Linked DNA regions of Homo sapiens: all the other regions are linked to region 2. The links come from fine-mapping of genetic effects on gene expression. A gene starts in region 2. Each other region holds a variant in brackets. All regions are shown on one strand. Distances are between the middles of the regions.

Evidence for each region.
Region 1: its variant is fine-mapped to the expression of RPRM in whole blood (INTERVAL, PIP 0.97).
Region 3: its variant is fine-mapped to the expression of RPRM in whole blood (INTERVAL, PIP 0.95).
Region 4: its variant is fine-mapped to the expression of RPRM in whole blood (TOPMed, PIP 0.96).

What each region holds. Positions count from the first base shown.
Region 1 is chr2:153,632,501-153,637,655 of GRCh38, forward strand. It overlaps a transcript of GALNT13 not described here. Among named protein-coding and RNA genes, the nearest start is that of RPRM, 160 kb to the left of the region's middle. The variant G/C (reference allele first, on the strand shown) is at 2,732.
Region 2 is chr2:153,476,271-153,481,425 of GRCh38, forward strand. RPRM (reprimo, TP53 dependent G2 arrest mediator homolog) reads right to left here and starts at 2,492. Exons shown (of 1, transcript NM_019845.3): 1 at 1,068-2,492. The coding sequence starts at 2,295. The coding sequence ends at 1,966. It also overlaps a transcript of GALNT13 not described here. RefSeq lists enhancers at 659-1,162, 1,163-1,666, 1,667-2,170 and a silencer at 2,527-2,726.
Region 3 is chr2:153,538,355-153,543,509 of GRCh38, forward strand. It overlaps a transcript of GALNT13 not described here. Among named protein-coding and RNA genes, the nearest start is that of RPRM, 62 kb to the left of the region's middle. The variant C/T (reference allele first, on the strand shown) is at 3,019.
Region 4 is chr2:153,449,144-153,454,298 of GRCh38, forward strand. It overlaps a transcript of GALNT13 not described here. Among named protein-coding and RNA genes, the nearest start is that of RPRM, 27 kb to the right of the region's middle. The variant C/G (reference allele first, on the strand shown) is at 2,380.

The sequences.
Region 1 (5,155 bases), 160 kb after region 2:
CTGTGCTCCACCTGTTCATCCTTCCCAAACTCCACCCCTTATCCCCTGGAAACCACTGATTCTTGCACTCCCTCTGTAGTTTTACTATCTCAATAGTTTTACCTTTTTTATAAAATAAAACATATAGGATACAATTTGAATCATATAGCATGTAGCCTTTTGAGAATGGTTTCCTTTATTTAATAATATGCATTAAAGATTTATCTGTGTTTTTTCATGATTTGATAGCTCATTTATTTATTTTTTATTTTATTTATGTATTTATTTTTGAGATGGAGTCTCACTCTTTTTGCCCAGGCTAGAGTGAGGTGGGGCAATCTCAGCGCAATGCAACCTTCACCTCCTGGGTTCAAGCAATTCTCCTGTCTCAGCTTCCCAAGTAGCTGGGATTACAGGCACACACCAATACGCCCAGCTAATTTTTTTGGCACTTTTTTTTTAGTAGAGATGTGGTTTCACTATGTTGGCCAGGCTGGTCTCGAACTCCTGACCTCAATTAATCCACCCGCTTCGGCCTCCCAAAGTGCTGGGATTACAGGCGTGAGCCACCATACGCAGCGCCATCTATTTTTATATTAATAAATAATATTTCGCTGCATGGTATACCATAGTTTGTTTGTTCCTTTATACCTATACAAGGCATCTTGGTTACTTCCCATTTTGGGAAACTGAAATTCAAGGAAATGGCTAAGCATACCTTTAATTTCCAACATATACAAAATAGAAAATATAATCTATGTTTCCCCTATCCCTCAGGTTGTATTTGTGTGCAGTTCAATTCATATTTCTGAATCACACAGCTGAGGATATAAAGTATTCTTCTTAGAAGAAATAAATATGCTTAAGCTACACATAAAATAAGACATTATCTCACCAAGTAGTCATTTTTTTCCCATTCAGTTTACTCCCTTTCACCATTGTAGATGATAATAAACTTGAGCAAATATTAGGTTTTTTCCTTTCAAAGTTTTAAGAATGTTTCATATAGATAGATTCTAGATATATGTTATTTACAGACATTTTGAAGCCATCACCTCTTCCAAGAAATGCCTCCTCTTTGTTTGCCTACTACAATATTTTTCACCATAGGAGACATTTATCACCTGGTGGTGAATTACCTGTTGTAGTTTACCAGCTTGTTCCTCTTTGCCATGTTTTTCAGGAGTGGCTAGCTAAGGTGTCCAGTGAGTGATCTATTTCCAAGGATAGTCTTCTTAGCGTATTTTCAGAATTCCCCAATCTTTGGAACTGTGATGCTAGAGATTTATGAAAGTCTTTATTATGGCTTTGGCATCCTGTATAAAAGCCTCTGCATTTTTCATAGCAAAACATTTATAGTACTTTTTTCTCTAGCATTATGGTTTTATAAATATCTTATTATAACCAATAAAGTCTGTGGACAGAACTGTCAATCTTTTCTTTTAATAATTTCCGATGTCTGACTTAAATTCTACAGACCCTAAAGATTTAAAAATCAAATTAGCTACCTTTTGAGTGCTGTTGAATTAAAGATCATCATTTTCCATCGTCTCATTGAAAGATGTCAGATGTAATGCAGAAGAATTTCCATAACTTTGTGTGGCATATTGGTGAATTGTCAGGAACACAAACAGAAGTTATACAGGGAGTCAGTAGTCCAGAACCACCGGGAAAATTATTTAGTAAATGAGTCACACATAATTTTAAGTTTTATGATTTTATTCAGAAAAAACACTTGAACATAACTAAGAAAATAAGCATAAGTAATTAACCAAATTAGAACTCTTACCTTTTATGTAACCTACACTTATATTCAGAAGAGCACTTTTGTTGAAAATTGTATGAATCATGAAAGTAATAGAATGTAGTACATGTCTATTCAACTCACACTTCTTTCTGATAATACACTGATGGGACATTTTATAATTGTTCTTGATGACATCTACTCTGAGAGGTAAAGACATGAAATCCATACTCCTAGACTCTCTTCTTCATCCATTCATCCTTGGGAGAAGTGGTTCATTATGATACTAACTTTTGATGATTGAAAAAAGATGGAAATCTTTTTTTTTTTTTTTTTTTTTTTTCTGAGATGGAGTCTCGCTCTGTCACCCAGGCTGGAGTGCAGTGGCCCGATCTCAGCTCATTGCAACCTCCATCTCCTGGGTTCAAGCGATTCTTCTGCCTCAGCCTCCCGAGTAGCTGGGACTACAGGTGTGCACCATCACACCCGGCTAATTTTTGTATTTTTAGTAGAGACGGGGTTTCACCATATTGACCAGGCTGGTCTTGAACTCCTGACCTCGTGATCTGCCTGCCTCGGCCTCCCAAAGTGCTGGAACTACAGGCGTGAGCCACCATGCCCAGCTGAAAATCTTTACTGAGCACAAATTACACACTAAGCACTGCTATAGATTTTTTTTTTTTAACTTGCTTTCTCTTCCTGTGGTTCTCTCTTACCTCTGGGAGGCAGGCATCTTGATCTCTAATTTGCGAATGTGAAAACTGAAGTTGAGAAAAATTAGGTGCTAAAGCAGAGTGATTTTAGAAAGCATTAGTTTCTAAGAAGTGTGGAACTGATAACTACTTTAGAGGAAATTTGTTCTTGAAAGCAGGGGAAAAAAAAACCACTTTCTAAGAAAGGCAAATGGAGGTGAGACTCTTGAAGCAAAGCATGTGCTTTATTATTTTCCTTTGATCCTTTGGTAGACCCAGTTTAGGCTTCCTGCCCAGTTGAAACATTTTTTTCTGA[G/C]AAATTTTGCCATCCCCCAAGTGGCAATCATAAAAGATAGTACACTACCTTTCCACAATGCATTTTCTTTTGCTTCAGGTAATTTGAAGGGAGTTCCTGGTATTTGCAACCAAGAAACTTTAAACAGATTTTTTCTAGAACTCTCTACTCATAGTACAGTAAATATGTATATATATATATATATACACATATATATGTATATATATATACACACATATATATGTATATGTGTATACGTTTGTTTTTAACTTACCTTTCAGTCTTCAAGATTTAAGAAAACAATTATTTGGATGACTGTAAGAAATTTTGTGATACTAAAAGTAAATTAGGGCAAGAAGTTGGAAATGTAGATATTTAAAAGTTTATAGCCTAGGATGAATTCTGCAGAGTTGAAGAGGCACCACCCACTGTCTTGGAACTCATTCGTATCTTTGGATACGGAAAGGTCAGGTGGCTCTGTGTCCACAACTACTCTGTGTAACTCCACTAATTTTATGCTACTGACTGGAAATATTCAAATATTGCATATCTGTGGTTTCCCTGTAGCATAAGTCAGTAAACTTCAAAGACTTCACTGATAAGTTTGAGGCTTTAATTTCTTTCTAGTATCATGTTTTTTTTTGTACATGTTTAAGAAAAGGCTTTTTGAAATTTCAGATGCTTTGAGGCAGGGGTAAAAAGAAACATAAGAGAAAATGCCTTGTTTGAATGATGTATTAAATAGAAGCTAAATGTGTAAACTTGAAGGATGTATGTGTGTTGATGTGGGATGAGAACACTGTGAAGAGGAAATTCCGAACTCCATGCATTTCTATTTCACATTTGGTGATTACATTTTTAGCATGCTGGGAAAGAAATCAGACACAAAACGCCCGTTATATAAAAAGATTTTTTCTGTCTAATTCCCCCCTTCACCATGCTAACTACATACCCACTTATATTTAATTCCACACACTCAAAATGCAGTCACATTTTGAAGGGGAAAATAGTTTAAACTAAGACAAGCAATTACCTAGTTATTTTTTAATATTCCCCTCTGCTCCCTATTACTGACTTTAATGAAAACCAGAACAGCATATACTACATTTTAAAAAATTAAATATGTCCCAGTGAATAGGTGCAGAATCATACTTTATTTAATAGTTTTCAACTATTTTAAAAACAGAAAGGTGGTATCCTCAGTTGATATTAATGTGTAAAAAGGCTTCTCGTAGTTTTTATTTAATAGGCAGAATTTCCTTTTTGACTGTGGTTAGCAGAAAATAATAATAGTTACAGTTACAAAATGCTTTAAATTCAAACGTTCTCCCACCCCAATCAAAGACCTTGTTAGATAAAATAGGATATTTCTGGTTTTTAAATTTGGAGAAATTGAAGCTCAGTTTTGCAAACTCAAGGAACCTCTCATCAATCATCAAAATAGTGCTGGAATCCAGGCTTCTCTTCCTTCTAGTAGGGCCAGGGCTCTTACTGCTTTCCTAATGCTGTGTACCATTTAAACCCTCTGAAATAACATGTTCAAATATTTGTTCCTACATTGCTAGGAATTTAGAGGAAAATAGAGAAGACTTAAAGAAATTATTACAGTAAGAAAGTAGAATCTTTGAAGGCAAGATAAATCAGTTGACATAGTCTAGCCTGGAGAGGATAAGGTTAGAAGGTGACTTGATACATGTCTTTAAGTAAAATGATCCTGTGAAGAGGTGCTCTGTATCTCTGTCAAGGTGATAGTATGAATTACAGTGATGAACTACTGGGTCAAATATAAGGTATATTTTATTGACAGGGACTGCATTAAATTCGATAATAGGCACCAAAAAAAGGTGAAATGTCCTTTTACAAAGAAATAAAGAAAATAAGGTCTGAAGCTCCATTTTACCTGATTAAATTATAACATCATTTATGGTTATTCAAGCTTGTAATAATATATCTCTGGTCATATACCAAATTGCTAATCTCTAAAATGATCGAATCTTATGAATGAGCGTATCTATATGATGTATTAATTCCCTTTGAAGTCCACATTGCCTCATTTCAATTGAATTGAATATTCTAACTGGAAGGAAGCAAAAGATACTGCAATCTATCACATGATCTTTAATTAACTAACAGTACCTCAGGGTGAATCCAAAAGCTGTTCTTATGCAGTGGAAATTCCAATTTTGGCTTCCTTTTCCTGCCTTTTTTTGTTTTTTCTTCAGTTATTCTTCATCTACATTTTGTTACTGATAAACCTCTCTAGATAGTAGGATAGAATAAAGAAGAACTGAGAATTCAAGCTTTCCTAATGTTATTACTTCTTATCAGGCTTGTTTTCAAAAAGAGAACACAGGGAGGAGAGAGAAATATAACAGCAAGTTTTTTGCATTTTCTTGGAGCCTTTAGATGCATGTTATCAATGAGTATTTTATTCTATATGCAGAA
Region 2 (5,155 bases):
ATTGTTTACACCAGTTGTGCTTCTTTCTGAGTAAATGGAACACTTTATTATTATTTGATTTTAGTTACTCTTATAGCTGCCATTGTGAAGTCTTTGAAATTTTAATTGCTATATAGCATCCTAGTGGATTCTTTATAGTCTTGAAAATATTTAGGATCCTGTCTCAGGCATAAAAATAAACTGCTCAAAACCTTTTGTCAAGTTTATGCTCGAAGCTATTGTATCCTTTGGGTTATTTTCACAGGCACGGTTTTTAGGCGTTTCTTTCTAACACTGTTGAATTTCTGAACCTTAAATGTGTCAACGGCCATCTGTAGTTCTACTCCAAATATCCTTCCCAGTTGGGGTTGTAATACTCATCTCCCACATTCAGGACCTCGGCTAACTCCTCTCAACCCTTTGCCTGGTCTGGGGCATACTAAATTACAAAGAACAGGCTGAATCTTTTAACGTGGTCTTTTTGCTAGAAAAAGTAATATCACAACGACAGTAATGCATCTCATGTTTTAGTAACAATGGTTTACCCTAGGGAGCATTAACGTCACTAACGTCACTGTGTACCTTAGCAGCTACTTTTCCTCGCATTTTATAATTCCCCTTCCCTCCGCCCCCCGGCCCCACCCGTGGGCAGCATCCCAAAGCCGCCTGGCTGACGTTGGTTAGGGTAGAGACGCCCTCCCTAAAGGCTGTCCAAGCCGTCTCTTCCTTTCATTAGCGGTGTAATCCTGTGTTCCCGCCGGAGCCTGGCACGGAAGTGTAATCTTCCCGCGGGGGCCCTTCTGTCGTCTCGCCTACCTGAGAGCTGAGACTAAATGAAATATAAAATATTCACGATAAGAGGAAACAAAGGATGCTGCCTCCAGGACGGCTACTGTGCCTGAGGCTGGGCTCCTTCTCAGTCATCCCAGGGCCTCTCCGTCTGGCCCCACCCTCGCCCCTCCAGGGGATCCACAAGTTGAATCGCAGCTCTCCAGGGTTAATTGCCCTGGCCGGGAGCCAGACTCCTCACCGCCGCCCCGTTCCCCCCTGCTGGGGAGCGCAGAATGACCACCAGGAGGCCAGGAACAAAACGCTTAAATGTTGCATTTATTAAGGAAATGTTAAATAAGAAAAAAACAAAAAGTCAAAACGGTGTCACGGATGTCAAGAGCACTTTTGTGGCGTAAACCGTGCAGTCACGAGCTACGAGTTCTATTCTGGGTCTTTGTCCCAGGGCCAGCAGGAACGCTAGACGCCTCCCAAAAGACCCAGTGGGAAATGCACTAAAAGAAACAACTCACCCCGTTCAAATTCGCAGGCTCCCCCTCCCCCCACCCCTTCTCCCACAATGACAAAACTGTAACTCCTCAGGCAGGCAAACAGGCCACTGGGGCAGAAAAAGACTTATCAAACATTTGTATTCAAGCAAACAAACACAAAACCTCTTAAAACGGCACGTTACAATCAAAGGTATTTATCGCCCCTCCCCTCCAGGGCAGGGGGGGAGCAGGAGAAGAGTGGGAGCGCACCCGGACACGGATTTGTGAGACCCCATGAGTCTGCTGCGTGGCTTTTAACAGGTCACTCTTCCGGTCACAAGGCGATCAGTGCCGCTGGGTCTCTCCCCTGCCCGCCCTCTCCACCTGCCCCCAGAGCTTGGCCCACCTGCGGGTGGAGAAGGGCCTTCGCACCGTCGGTCTCCCCGCATTCCAAGTAAGTAGCAGCTTCCAAAGTTCTGCGCCCTAATCGCCCTCTTCTTGCCACTTTCTGCTGAGTTCAGAGTCTGGGCGCTCTCCTCCGACTGCCAGGCATGAGGACTTTCAGAGGGCGAGGGAGAAACCGGTCGCTTCTTTCCGAAAGGCCGAAGTCGAGAGAAATAATTGACTCCGACAGGTTTGCTTCGCCCAGTCTCTGATAGTGAGGGGCACAGCCGGGCTAGCAAAGTGGGCAGGCGTGGGAGCGGTTGCCGCGGGGGCAGAGGGCGGGTCAGTAGGGCCCCACGACCACCGCCTCCACCTCCTTAGACGGCCTCCGGTCCTTCACGAGGAAGTTGATCATGCCCTCGGACTTGATGAGCAGATTGCAGCCGAGGAAGAAGATGCCGAAGACCACGGTGAGTGAGAGCACGCACATGACCGCGATCTGCACCACGCGCATTATGTACAGGCTACGCTCGTCCGGGCCTCCCTCCGCGAAGCCGTCGTCGGTCACCACGGACGCCTGGGTGCAGCAGCGCACGGCTCGCTCCAGCGCCTCGCTGCTGTTGGCCAGGAACAGGCCCGCCACGTCCGTCTGGTTGCCTAGGGCCGGATTCATCGCAGGAACGGGCGGGCGCCGCGAGCGGCGCGGGTCCGAGGGGTGGGAAGGCGGCGGCGCTGGAGGAACAGGTGCCGGGCTGAGCGCTCACTCGCAGACTAGCGCGTGCGAGGGCTCCTCGCTCTGCTTTCGAAAGTCCCTGGGCCGTGGGAGTTTCCCAGGAGCCTCTCCGACGCGCGCAGCAGCTAGGCTCTTCTAAAGCCGTCCGCTCCAGCCCTGGTGGTGCTCGTTCCCGGCGCTCGCTCGAGGGGGGGCTGTTGGAACTTGGCGGGGCTGGACCAGCCCGGCCGTGGGAGGTGCGGGCCGCGGCGGCTGCAGCGGCGGGGTGGCTGCGCTGAGCAAACAGCGGCCCCTTCCGGCCGCACCGCCGCGCTGCGCGCTGCTCTTGGGAGGTGGAGGAAGCAAAGGGGCGAACCTGGTCTTGCTTTTTATTGCTTGCTTCTTTTGCAAACTCCAAAGGCCAGGCAGAGGTCACTGTACTCTTCTAGCTTGATGGATGATTAAAGAGTTTGTCGGGGGAGGGTGCGGTCAGCTGAAAGTTTCAGAGGAACTGGGACACACGAGCTCTGCGTGTCCTTTGCCTGCTGCCCCCCTGACCTCTGGGCGAATGGAAAGTGGCGATGAATCGCAGGTGCCAGATGGTGCCGGCTGAGGCCACCCGCCCACTGCCTGTGCTTGACTCCGACTCGCCTGCGTTGGATTTCTAGTGGAGTGGAGGTGATCTGAGAATGTTTCTTACAAAGCAATGAATTTGGAAAGACAGAAAGGCATGGAAGAAGGAAGGAAGAAAGGAAGGAAGGAAAGAAAAAAGGAAGGGAGGGAGAAAGAAGAGCTCTACACCCAGCTTCCTTTACAAAAGCGATTGGGAGACAGAGCAAGGCAGGTTTTACCGTGAGGTTTGAGGCCAAGGAAAGAGGGTTAGAGGAAGGAGGAGTTCTTCTGTGGCCCTTGGGTGGAGGTAGTTGCCGGGAGCAGGGTCACCTCTCTGGTAAAGGAGGTGAACAGAGTGACCACTTGCTTGTAATTTTAATTGCAGATAAGTTTTTGGATGTGCTTCCAGCATTTTGTCCGTTGGCAGTAAATCAGTTGTTGAAGGGAATTGCTCATCAACATCCATCACCTAGAACGCTGGCCAAATACTGGGAGCCCTCCCCATTTTCCATAAGCTGATGTATTTCACCCTTAGTCATTTAAACTAAACACAGATGTTTTTATAGGCCTGATTGACGCTTCAGCCATTGTGATTTTGCTCTAGGTTCCAACGAAATTCTATAAACCTGTCAGATTAAGTTTCTTAACTCTGAAAGAATATTGCATGTTCCCGCTCCCCCTTTTCTGTTTTCTTTCCCCTCCCTCCTTTTCCCCATTACTCCCTGCCTTCCTCCCTCTTTCTTTCAGCTGTAACAGCTGGAAACCAGTAACTTGAGCTTCCAATAGAATACATTTACTTTCTATTAAATGTTCTCACCACAAAGAACTGATAAAAATTTGAGATAATGGGTACGCTAATTACTCTGATTTGATCATTCCACATGTATATGTGTATCAAAATATCACTTTGTACCTCATAAATATGTACAGTTGTCAATTAAAAATAAAATAAAACTGAAAAATAGTAGCTGTCTTGCCATTTTCAACTCTACTCTTAATTTCATTCTGTTTGCTTGGTAAATCCTCTTATTTCTGTTTCTTAAAACATCATTTATTCCATCTTCAGAGTGTTCCTTAAATGTTTTTGCACTGCTTCATGACTATCATAAAATAGAATGAAATGCCTTCTGGTTGAGTTTTCAATTTTTTGATATTTATGGTATATCAGCTGCAATAAGTTTGATTTTTTAAAATAGCTATTATTATTTTGAGGGGGATGTTTAACAGCTGAAAATTCAGGCTTGGGCTTCTACCACAATTCACTGGCTTATTGTTCTAGTTTCCCATAATTTAATTAGAATTGAAAAATACCTCACTCTCGGCAATTTCTTCTTTGAAGAAATTTATTAATAATTGATAAGTAAGAATTTACTTAAATCTCATCATACAATCAGTCTATCTTAGTTAATGTGGGTAGTCCTCAAGAATAATAAAACGTAATGTATACATGGAAAAAATTACAACAAATTTAAGGCAATATAAAGTCATCCTGAGATGAATGGTAGAGAAAAGTAATAGAAATTTAGAAAAATAAAAGGTCAGAGAACAGAGGCCCACCTCCAGGGATCAAGTTGTACAGAACTGTGTGTTCAGTAGAAGTTAGGTGTAAGCAAATGGAGAGCCCCTTCTTTATGTGACAAAAACCAAGAGTTAGTTTATAGTACATTTGTAAGATCCAATATGGAAGGATGCTAAAAGTGTTAGTTGAATCATTATCAGAATTTGAGTATATTTATTGCTAGGAACAGTATTGCTGTTTTCGTCAGGTCAGTGTTAAAATGATCAAACCTTGGAGTCAGGAGAGTTTTTATATTTAATCAAATCTTTGGGTGGGATCTTTTCTCTCAGGTTTAAGGACTAATTAGTCACAAAATTGTTGACAAGGTAATAGGTATTTCCCCCATCAGCTAGTTCAGCTCTCTGGTTTTGTTCAAGACAATCTTGGGATTGTTTCCCTTATTTTCCCTCCACTCTGATTTTGTTTAATAAAATTACTTAGAACATATAGATGGAAATTAATTATAAACTTAGTCATACAAAAATTATATTTATTATTCATTCATTAATTGACTTAAGGGGATCTGTGTTGCTAGAGAAATCTTTATGTTTTACAGAATCCCTTTTATTTATCTTTTCCTTTTGAATTTTCAGTGAACAATTTCAGTTTTTCTCCTTTTATTCACCTGTTTCTTAGGAGAATCTCACAAGT
Region 3 (5,155 bases), 62 kb after region 2:
TATTTTTATTTTATTTATTTTATTTTATTTTATTTTATTTTATTTTATTATTATACTTTAAGTTTTAGGGTACATGTGCACATTGTGCAGGTTAGTTACATATGTATACATGTGCCATGCTGGTGCGCTGCACCCACTAACTCATCATCTAGCATTAGGTATATCTCCCAATGCTATCCCTCCCCCCTCCCCCCACCCCACAACAGTCCCCAGAGTGTGATATTCCCCTTCCTGTGTCCATGTGATCTCATTGTTCAATTCCCACCTATGAGTGAGAATATGCAGTGTTTGGTTTTTTGTTCTTGCGATAGTTTACTGAGAATGATGATTTCCAATTTCATCCATGTCCCTACAAAGGACATGAACTCATCATTTTTTATGGCTGCATAGTATTCCATGGTGTATATGTGCCACATTTTCTTAATCCAGTCTATCATTGTTGGACATTTGGGTTGGTTCCAAGTCTTTGCTATTGTGAATAATGCCGCAATAAACATACGTGTGCATGTGTCTTTATAGCAGCATGATTTATAGTCCTTTGGGTATATACCCAGTAATGGGATGGCTGGGTCAAATGGTATTTCTAGTTCTAGATCCCTGAGGAATCGCCACACTGACTTCCACAATGGTTGAACTAGTTTACAGTCCCACCAACAGTGTAAAAGTGTTCCTATTTCTCCACATCCTCTCCAGCACCTGTTGTTTCCTGACTTTTTAATGATTGCCATTCTAACTGGTGTGAGATGGTATCTCATTGTGGTTTTGATTTGCATTTCTCTGATGGCCAGTGATGATGAGCATTTTTCCATGTGTTTTTTGGCTGCATAAATATCTTCTTTTGAGAAGTGTCTGTTCATGTCCTTTGCCCAGTTTCTGATGGGGTTGTTTGTTTTTTTCTTGTAAATTTGTTTGAGTTCATTGTAGATTCTGGACATTAGCCCTTTGTCAGATGAGTAGGTTGCGAAAATTTTCTCCCATTCTGTAGGTTGCCTGTTCACTCTGATGGTAGTTTCTTTTGCTGTGCAGAAGCTCTTTAGTTTAATTAGATCCCATTTGTCAACTTTGTCTTTTGTTGCTATTGCTTTTGGTGTTTTAGACATGAAGTCCTTGCCCATGCCTATGTCCTCAATGGTAATGCCTAGGTTTTCTTCTAGGGTGTTTATGGTTTTAGGTCTAACGTTTAAGTCTTTAATCCATCTTGAATTGATTTTTGTATAAAGTGTAAGGAAGGGATCCAGTTTCAGCTTTCTACATATGGCTAGCCAGTTTTCCCAGCACCATTTATTAAATAGGGAATCCTTTCCCCATTGCTTGTTTTTCTCAGGTTTGTCAAAGATCAGATAGTTGTAGATATGCGGCGTTATTTCTGAGGGCTCTGTTCTATTCCATTGATCTGTATCTCTGTTTTGGTACCAGTACCATGCTGTTTTGGTTACTGTAGCCTTGTAGTATAGTTTGAAGTCAGGTAGTGTGATGCCTCCAGCTTTGTTCTTTTGGCTTAGGATTGTCAGGCAGAAGAAATTTCTAAGCAGCAAAGCATTTAAGAGGTGACCGAGCATAAAAGTTTGGAAAATGTGCAGCCTGACAATATGGTAGAAAAGAAAAACCCATTTTCTGGGGAGAAATTCAAGCCAGCTGCAGAAACGTGCACAAGTAATGAGGAGCCAAATGTTAATTGCCAAGACAATGTGGAAAATGTCTCCAGGATATGTCAGGGACCTTTATGGCAGCCTCTCCCATCAGAGGCCTGAAGGCCTACGAGGAATAAATCGGTTCTGTGGGCCTGGTCCAGGGCCCCCCTGCTGTGTGCAGCCTAGAGACTTGGTGTCCTGCATTCTGGCCACTTCAGCCATGTCTAAAAGGGGCCAAGGTACAGCTCAGTCCATGGCTTCAGAGGGTACAAGTCCCAAGCCTTGGCAGCTTCCATATGGTATTGGTCCTGCAGGTGCATAGAAGACAAGAGTTGATGTTTGGAAACCTCTGCCTAGAATTCAGAGGATGTATGGAAACATCTGGATGTCCAGGCAGAAGTTTGCTGCAGGGGTGAAGTCCTCATGGAGAACCTCTACTAGGGCAATGAAGAGGGGAAATGTGGGGTTGGAGCTCCCACACAGAGTCCCCACTGGGGCACTGCCTAGCAGAGCTGTGAGGAGAGGGCCACCATCCTCCAGACCCCAGAGTGGTAAATCCACTGACAGCTTGCACTATGTACCTGGAACAGCCACAGGTACTAAACAGCAGCCAATGAAAGCAGCCCCCGGGCCTGTATCCTACTGAGCCGCAGGGGCAGAACTGCCCAAGTCCATGGGAGCCCACCTCCTGCAACAGTGTGACCTGGATGTGAGACATGGAATCAAAGCAGATTTTGAAGCTTTAAGATTTAATGACTGCCCCGCTGGGTTTCAAACTTGCATGAGGCCTTTGGTTCTTTTGTTGTGACCAATTTCTCCCATTTGGAATGTGTGTATTTACCCAATATCTGTACCCCCATTGTATCTAGAAAGTAAGTAACTTGCTTTCTATTTTACAGGCTTATAGGCAGAAGGGACTTGCCTTGTCTCAGATGAGACTTTGGACTTGGACTTTTGGCTTAATGTTGGTATGAGCTAAGACTTTGGGGGACTGTTGGAAAGGCATGATTTTGTTTTGAAATGTGAGGACATGAGATTTGAGAGGGGCCAGGGGTGGAATGATATGGTTTGGCTGTGTCCCTGCCCAAATCTTATCTTGAATTGTAGCTCCTATAATCCCCAGGTGTTGTGGGAGGGACCCAGTGGGAGGTGATTAGATCATAGGTGTTGTTCCCCCACCCTGTTATCATGATAGAGAGTGAATTCTCATGAGATCTGATGGTTGTATAAGGGGCTTTTCCCTCCTTTGCTCTGCACTTCTCCTTCCTGCCACCATGTGAAGGAAGGATGTGTTTGCTTCCTCTTCTGCCATGATTGTAAGTTTCCTGAGGCTTCCCTAATCCTGCTGACCTGTGAGTCAATCAAATCTCTTTCCTTTATAAATTAC[C/T]GAGTCTCAGACAGTTCTTTATAGCAGGGTGAGAATGGACTAATCGACTGACTTTCTCTTGCCCTCCTGTCTCTCATTTCTCTTCTTTCTCAAGGCACCATAGAAACTAGAATCCTTCTTCTCCAGTGTGGGTCATAGAAACCAGAACACCTTTCCCCAAAGCCAGTCATAAAACCTACAATTATTACTCTAACCTTCTCCCCTGCGTTTCTGTGTAAAAACTGGTCATAAATAAATTATCTGATCTACCTTGTTTGATTGTAGGCCATAAGACCTTCATTCCAGAGGGTGTCCTGGCTTAACCTCAGAAAGGAGGGGAATACATGCTTAGAGAAAACAGGAAGAATCTAGCTGGACAGGGCTTGCTTGGTTTCCCCACTCAGTTATTAGCATTAGCTTTTTTGTTCAACGTATTTCTATACAGTTGCCCATAGTTTGTTGAACATAAGCATAAAAATGGACAATTTCCCCTGTATCTTTGGGCCTTCATTCTGAAAGCTCTTGTGTTATATGAAACTATGATCAAATACATTTCTATGCCTTTTCTCCTATCCATCTGCCTCTAGTCAGTAATTTTTAAATGAACCTTCAAAGGGTGAAGGGGATATTTTCTCTTGGCCCTGACAAGTTGCAAACGAATACTAGAGCTGAACAGTAATTAAAGGCCGGGTACAGTGGCTCACCCCTGTAAACCCAGCATTTTGGGAGGCTGAGGCGGGTGGAACACCTGATGTCAGGAGTTCAAGACCAGTCTGGCCAACATGTTGAAACCCCATCTCTACTAAAAATACAAAAAAATTAGCCAGTCGTGGTGGCACAGGTCTGTAATCCCAGCTACTTGGGAGGCTGAGGCAGGAGAATCACTTGAACCCAGGAGGTGGAGGTTGCAGTGAGCTGAGATCATGCCATTGCACTCCAACCTGGGCAATAAGAGCAAAACTCCATCTCAAAAAACAAACAAACAAACAAACAAACACACACACACACAAAAAAAAAACCGGAAGTAGAAGCACATTTTATTCAGGACTATTGCAATAGGAGAAAAGAGATTTAAGTATAGAATGGGTCTCAGTTCTGAATACAGCTTGAGCAACTAGGAATTTATAGCAAGGGGCCAAGTTGGGGATCAGTAGATGGAAAATTATGAAGAGGAAACATCAGGGGTAAGGAATATTTTGATTAAACTGAACTAACAGGATTCTTGCTGAAGACAGGCCAGGGTGATCAGACATCACTTGAGGGATGGTAGAGGATGAAGAACCCAACTAGCTATTGAGGGTGATCAGATATGAAGGATGGGGGATTCTGGCTAAACAACCCTATCAAGGTTTTTGTTGAAAACTGAAACTTGCAAGAAGTTGCATAGCTAGGCCTAGGAGAAGTTTCAGGAATCTGACAAAAGTTTGGTCAAGCAAAGAATCTTTGTCAAGACCAACAGATTTGGTGAGCATGAATTCGACTTCTACCCCATTGCTTGTGGAGGCAGTCATATATATTTTATATATGCTATATCTCATCAATAAAAGTACACATCTAATAAAATTTTGAGCATGTAACCAACTTTACATGTATTTATAATGACTTATATGATTTTGTGTGCAATGCATATTATAAATAGAAATTTTAAAAGGCTGAGATAAAAATATATCTGTAAATAGAAGTTTTGATAATTTCTTTCCACGCCCCATTGATTGCCTTGGAAGCTGCAATTTGGAAGCCTCTGCTTTAAAACAAGTTTGTAGATGAGGTTGCCCAGAAATAATCTGTTGAGTGGAAATACTATAAGGTTGGAGGTGAATGCTTGGCAATACCCATATATAAGATTGGTTGAACAGTTGAACAGAGGAAATGGAGACCACAAAGGAGACTGAGAAGGAATGGCCAGAGAAGAATCATCTCACAGAAGCTGAAGGAAGACAATAATTCTTGTGTTTATTGTACCTGCCTACATCTTACTGTTGAGTGCATGCCCTGTGACCAGCCCATTTAGAAGAGCTAGAGACTCAGTGAAAAATAAGATGCTATCTTTCTCTAGAAGTAGCAAAAATAAATTTATAATTATATTACAAGGTCATAAACCTTTATTAAAGCATTTGTGATCTTGTAATGTAAATTATATAAATTGATAATTATACAT
Region 4 (5,155 bases), 27 kb before region 2:
CCTCACCAAAAACTGAATTGGCCAGAAACTTGATCTTGGACTTCTAGCCCCTAGAACTGTAAGAAAATATTTCTGTGCTTTTTAAGTTACCCAGTCTATGGTATTTTTTTATGGAAGCCCAAACCGAATACCAGAAGGTGGGGGTCAACAGTTTGAGGACAGGAGGAGGGGGAGGTCTGCTTACTTCTCACCATTTCCTTCTGCATCCTGTGTTGTCTCTGCAAGTGCTTCTCTTTCATAACTCCAGTCCCTCAAAGAAGACATGCACCCTGAGATCCCACTTCTGACCAAGATGTTTTTTCCCCCATGCCTCTGGCTCCCACACAGTGGAAAGCGCTCCCTTCCATTGTCCCTCCTGCCCTAGAGATGGTAATGGCTTCTTGCTGTTGCCAATCTATCTTTGCACTACTCACCTCTACTTGTTTCTCAACAATTGCGTTATCTATTGTCTTAGTCTGTTTTGTGTTGCTATAACAAAAATACCTAAGACTGGGTAATTTATAAAGAAGATAAATTTATTTTCTCACAGTTCTGGAGGCTGGAAGTCCAAGATCAAGGTGGCAGCAGATTCAGTTGTCTTGTAAGGGCTGCTCTATGCTTTCAAATAGTGCCTTGTTGCTACATCCTCCAGAGGGGAGAAACAGTGTCCTCACATGACAGAAGGTGGAAGGGTAAGTGGGATACATGTTACTTGCATCTACTTTTATATAAGGGTCATAATTCCATTCATGAAGGGAAAAGCCTTTATGACCTAATCACCTCTTAAAGGCCATACCTCTTAATAACATCACATTGACCAAGTTTCAATGCCAGAATTTTGGAGGGAACCTATTCAAACAATATAATCTGGAAAACAGTTTTCTGTAGTAAATCTTTCTGGTTGAAAAACCCAGAGTATGGCTTGGATAGAGTTGACTGCTACAGAGGCATTTTACTTAACAAGGCTTCATCGTTCAGGGTTTAGAATGAATCTTTCAGGTAATAATTGTTGGAGAGTTCATGTAACCACTCTGACTTGTCAGATTAGTAATGTGAAGCCTATTCTACCATCATTTTCTACTAAAGTCTTCCTCTGTTATTCTCATAACTCATAATGCATTTAAACAGCAAAACTGCAAATTAAGTTTCTTCCAGCATATTATACGTTGCTGCATTCACTTTTTATTTTCACTCATATTTCTTTTTTCCTCCCCATCTTACTCAACAAGTTAGTTTTTGTTATAAATATTTTTCAGTTTGAATGAAAAAAAAATGATTGAAGCAAAATGATCCATGATCAAATTTAACACTAGGAGGCTCAGAGAAATCGTGAACTCAGACGCTGGTTTTGTCACTGACTGCTTCAGTAAAATCTTTAATTGTTCTTTAGATGATGTATTGGATGATAAGTTCTGATTCCCACAGATAATTGAGTCCTATACCCCTAGGTTTGAATTTTTTTTTTTTTTGGTCCACACTTTAAATTGTGCCCAGAAAATTCTCTGGATAGAATTTGATTGCAGATGTCTATTATATTCCGATGAACACATATCAGTCAGTCTTCCAAAGCATTTTACAATGAAGTGAAGCTGACCTTGTAATATGGTAGCACACTTATCAGGCCATTAAAATGTCCCTCTTATGTAATAGTAGCCAGTTGCAATTGACCAAAAGAAACTTTGATGGGCTTTCACTTGGAAACTTGTGCAAGTATGTTCTTTATTTTGATTTCTTTCCATAGGACCTTCAGTTTTCCATAGCATGTTTCAAAAGATGGATGAAAGTAAACATGATACAATATTTTAGTTAGGACCTATCTAATGTCTCACAGAGAAGTTTTTCTATGAAGTTCAACCATAAATACAAATAAAGCATGTTCTGTACACAATTCATTGTCATACTTTGATATTTATCAAACACCCCAGGGAGGCATGATGTGCTTTCTTCCCAATTGCTGTATATTTTCAGCCTCCATCAAAAAGTATTATAATTAAGTATTAATATACTAATAGTTTAATTGAAACTATAAAAATAATCTAATTTATAACCTCAGAAAATATATTTTGACCTAAAATCATCAGCATTCATTAGTAAATTGTGTGTTCCTTTATACATTTTAATCTAGTAAATAAGATTCTTTTCTCACCCAATACTGGAATTAGCTTTAGCCTGTTTTCAGTAACCTCTTCCAACCCATATGTAACATCATTTATTGTCACAAAAACCTTCTTAGCTTAAGTCTATTATAATTTGTAAATGTACATAATTTTTCTCTTCTCAAACTTGGTAAGAAATTCGCAAAGTATGAGTGCCTTCATCACCATTATCATTATCAAATAATACTGCTCTCCCCCAAGTGCATGAGGCTGCTGGAGACTACTAAATTACATTAAATTCTTT[C/G]TGCTCCATTTTAGCAAGAGAAATTTGCCCAAGTTTATGCAGTATAGAAAGAGAAAGTGAGAGTTAAATATCACATCCACATAATGCACTCCGATGTGCTCCACCAAAACTAGCGTTTTACAGTAATTCCAGTGTACTGTATGTTTTTGTTTTGAACTAAAACGGAACTTGGGAGGAAATTTCATTTTCGATACTGTAAATTTACTGTGAAAGAAATGGGAAATAGTGTCCCCAGGCAGTGTCAGAATGACTGCTGCTTTCCCTTCTCACTGCAATTAGAGTTCTAGCCCCAGGCGGCAGGTAGGTGCAGACACAGGTGACTTGCTTTTGATTGGCAGGCTCATGAAGCAGCTAGATGGGGGATTCCTGGGACTGAGTGGAGGATTCATTTACCTTCAAGGCTGGTTTTGGAAGCCTTGGCTTCCTGACTAAAAAATGTGGATTCTCTTTCATATAGGTTATAATCAAATGTTGCATTGGCAAGCATCTGAAGGACAACCTCCTAAACAGCCAGCATCGCTTGTACAGCTTCTGTAACTGACATTGGTTTGGTTTTGGTTAACAAGTTTTCATGAGAATTTTATAACTTAGTGTTTACACTTTCAGCACTTGATGCTCTTTTTGCCTGCTTAGAGAGCTTCCTTCCAACTGATGCTGTGGCCCAAACAACAAAACATACGGCATAAGAATATGCTTATTTTCCTGAAATTTGTATGTGATTTTCTGACCAAATCACAAATTGCAGAATTAAAAGTATCTTCTTAATTTAAAAATAAGAGAATATCCTGTCTGTACTAAAAATACAAAAATTAGCTGGTCGTGGTGGAGGGTGCCTGTAGTCCCAGCTACTTGGGAGGCTGAGGTGAAAGAATCGCTTGAACCCATGAGGTGGTTGCAGTGAGCTGAGATTGCACCACTGCACTCCAGCCTAGGAAACCGAGTGAGACTCTATCTCAAAAAAAAGAAAAAGAATATGAGTATCATATGAATTTAGTGTTAAGTGAAATAAAATATTTTACAGCATTTCAATACAAAAGTAGTTTCTTTCTATCTAGTATTATCATTTAAATCATAATAGAATGATAGTCTTAGAAATCATAGATGACACAAACAAATGGAAAAACATTCCATGCCCATGGATTGCAAGAATCAATACTGTTAAGATGTTCATACTGCCCCAAGAAATCTACAGATTCAAGCTATTCCTATTAAGCAACCAATATTGTTTTTCATAGAACCAGAGAAAAACTATTCTAAAATTTATATGAAACCAAAAAAGACCCAGAATAAGCAAAGCAATCCTAAGCAAAAACAACAAAGCTGGAGGCATTACATACCTGACCTCAAACTATACTATAAGGCTATAATAATCAAAATAGCATGGTACTGGCACAAAAATAGTCATACAGATAAATGGCACAGAATAGAGAACCCCGATACAAAGTTGCACAGCTGTAACCATCTGATCTAAGCCATCGAAGTTAATAAGTGGAAAAATGACACCCTATTCAATAAATGGTGCTGGAATAGCTGGCTAGCCATATGCAGAAGAATGAAACTAGACCACTACCTCTCACCATATTCAAATATTAACTCAAGATGGATTAAAGATTTAAATGTAAGACATCAAACTACAAGAATCCCAGAAAAAAGACCTAGGAAACACAATTCTGGATGTTGGCCTTGGGAAGGAATTTATGACTAAGTCCTCCAAAGCAATCGCTACAAAAACAAAAATTGACAAGTGGAATCTAATTAACTTAAAGAGCTTCTGCACACCGAAAGAAACTATCAACAGACTAAACAGACAGCCCACAGAATGGGAGAAAATATTTGCAAACTGTGCTTTCCATAGAGGCCAAATATCTGGAATCCATAAGGAACTTAAACAATTGAACAATAAACAATATATAACCCCATTAAAAATTGGCAAAAGATATGAACAGACATTTATCAAAAGAAGACATATGAGCAGCCAACAAACATTAAAAAATGCTCTACATCACTAATCTTCAGAGCAATGCAAATCAAAACCACAGTGAGTTACCATCTCACACCAGTCAGAATTGTTATTATTAAAAAGTCAAACAACAGCAGATGCTGGTAAGGCTACAGAGAAAAGAGAATAGTTTTACACTGTTGGAGGGAATGTAAATTAGTTCAGCCACTGTGGAAAGCAGTTTGGAGACTTCCCAAAGAACTTACAACAGGACTACTATTCAAACTAGCAATCCCATTACTAGGTGTATAGCCAAAATAAAATAAATTATTCTACCGAAAAGACACATGCACTCATATGTTCATCACAGGACTATTCACAATAACAAAGACGTAGAACCAGAGTAGGTGCCCATCAACAGTGGATTGGATGAAGAAAATGTAGTACATATACACCATAGAATACTATGCATCCATAAATAAGAATGAAATCACATCTTTTGCAGCAACATGAATGCAGCTGGAGACCATTATCCTAAGCAAGTTAATGCAGAAAAATAATAAAAAAATACCACATGTTCTCACTTATAAGCAGGAGCTAAACAATGGATAATCATGACCATAAAGCTGGCAACAACTGACACTATTAGAGGGGTCTAGTAGGGAAGGATGGAGAAGGGCAAGTCTTGAAACCCTAACTATTCAGTACTATGCTCAGTACTTGGGTGACAAGATCAATTGTACCCCGAACCTCAGCATCACAAAATATACCCAGGTAACTTGAGTCTAAAATGAAAGTTGAAATTATGTATATATATATATAGAACTGTCTTATAGT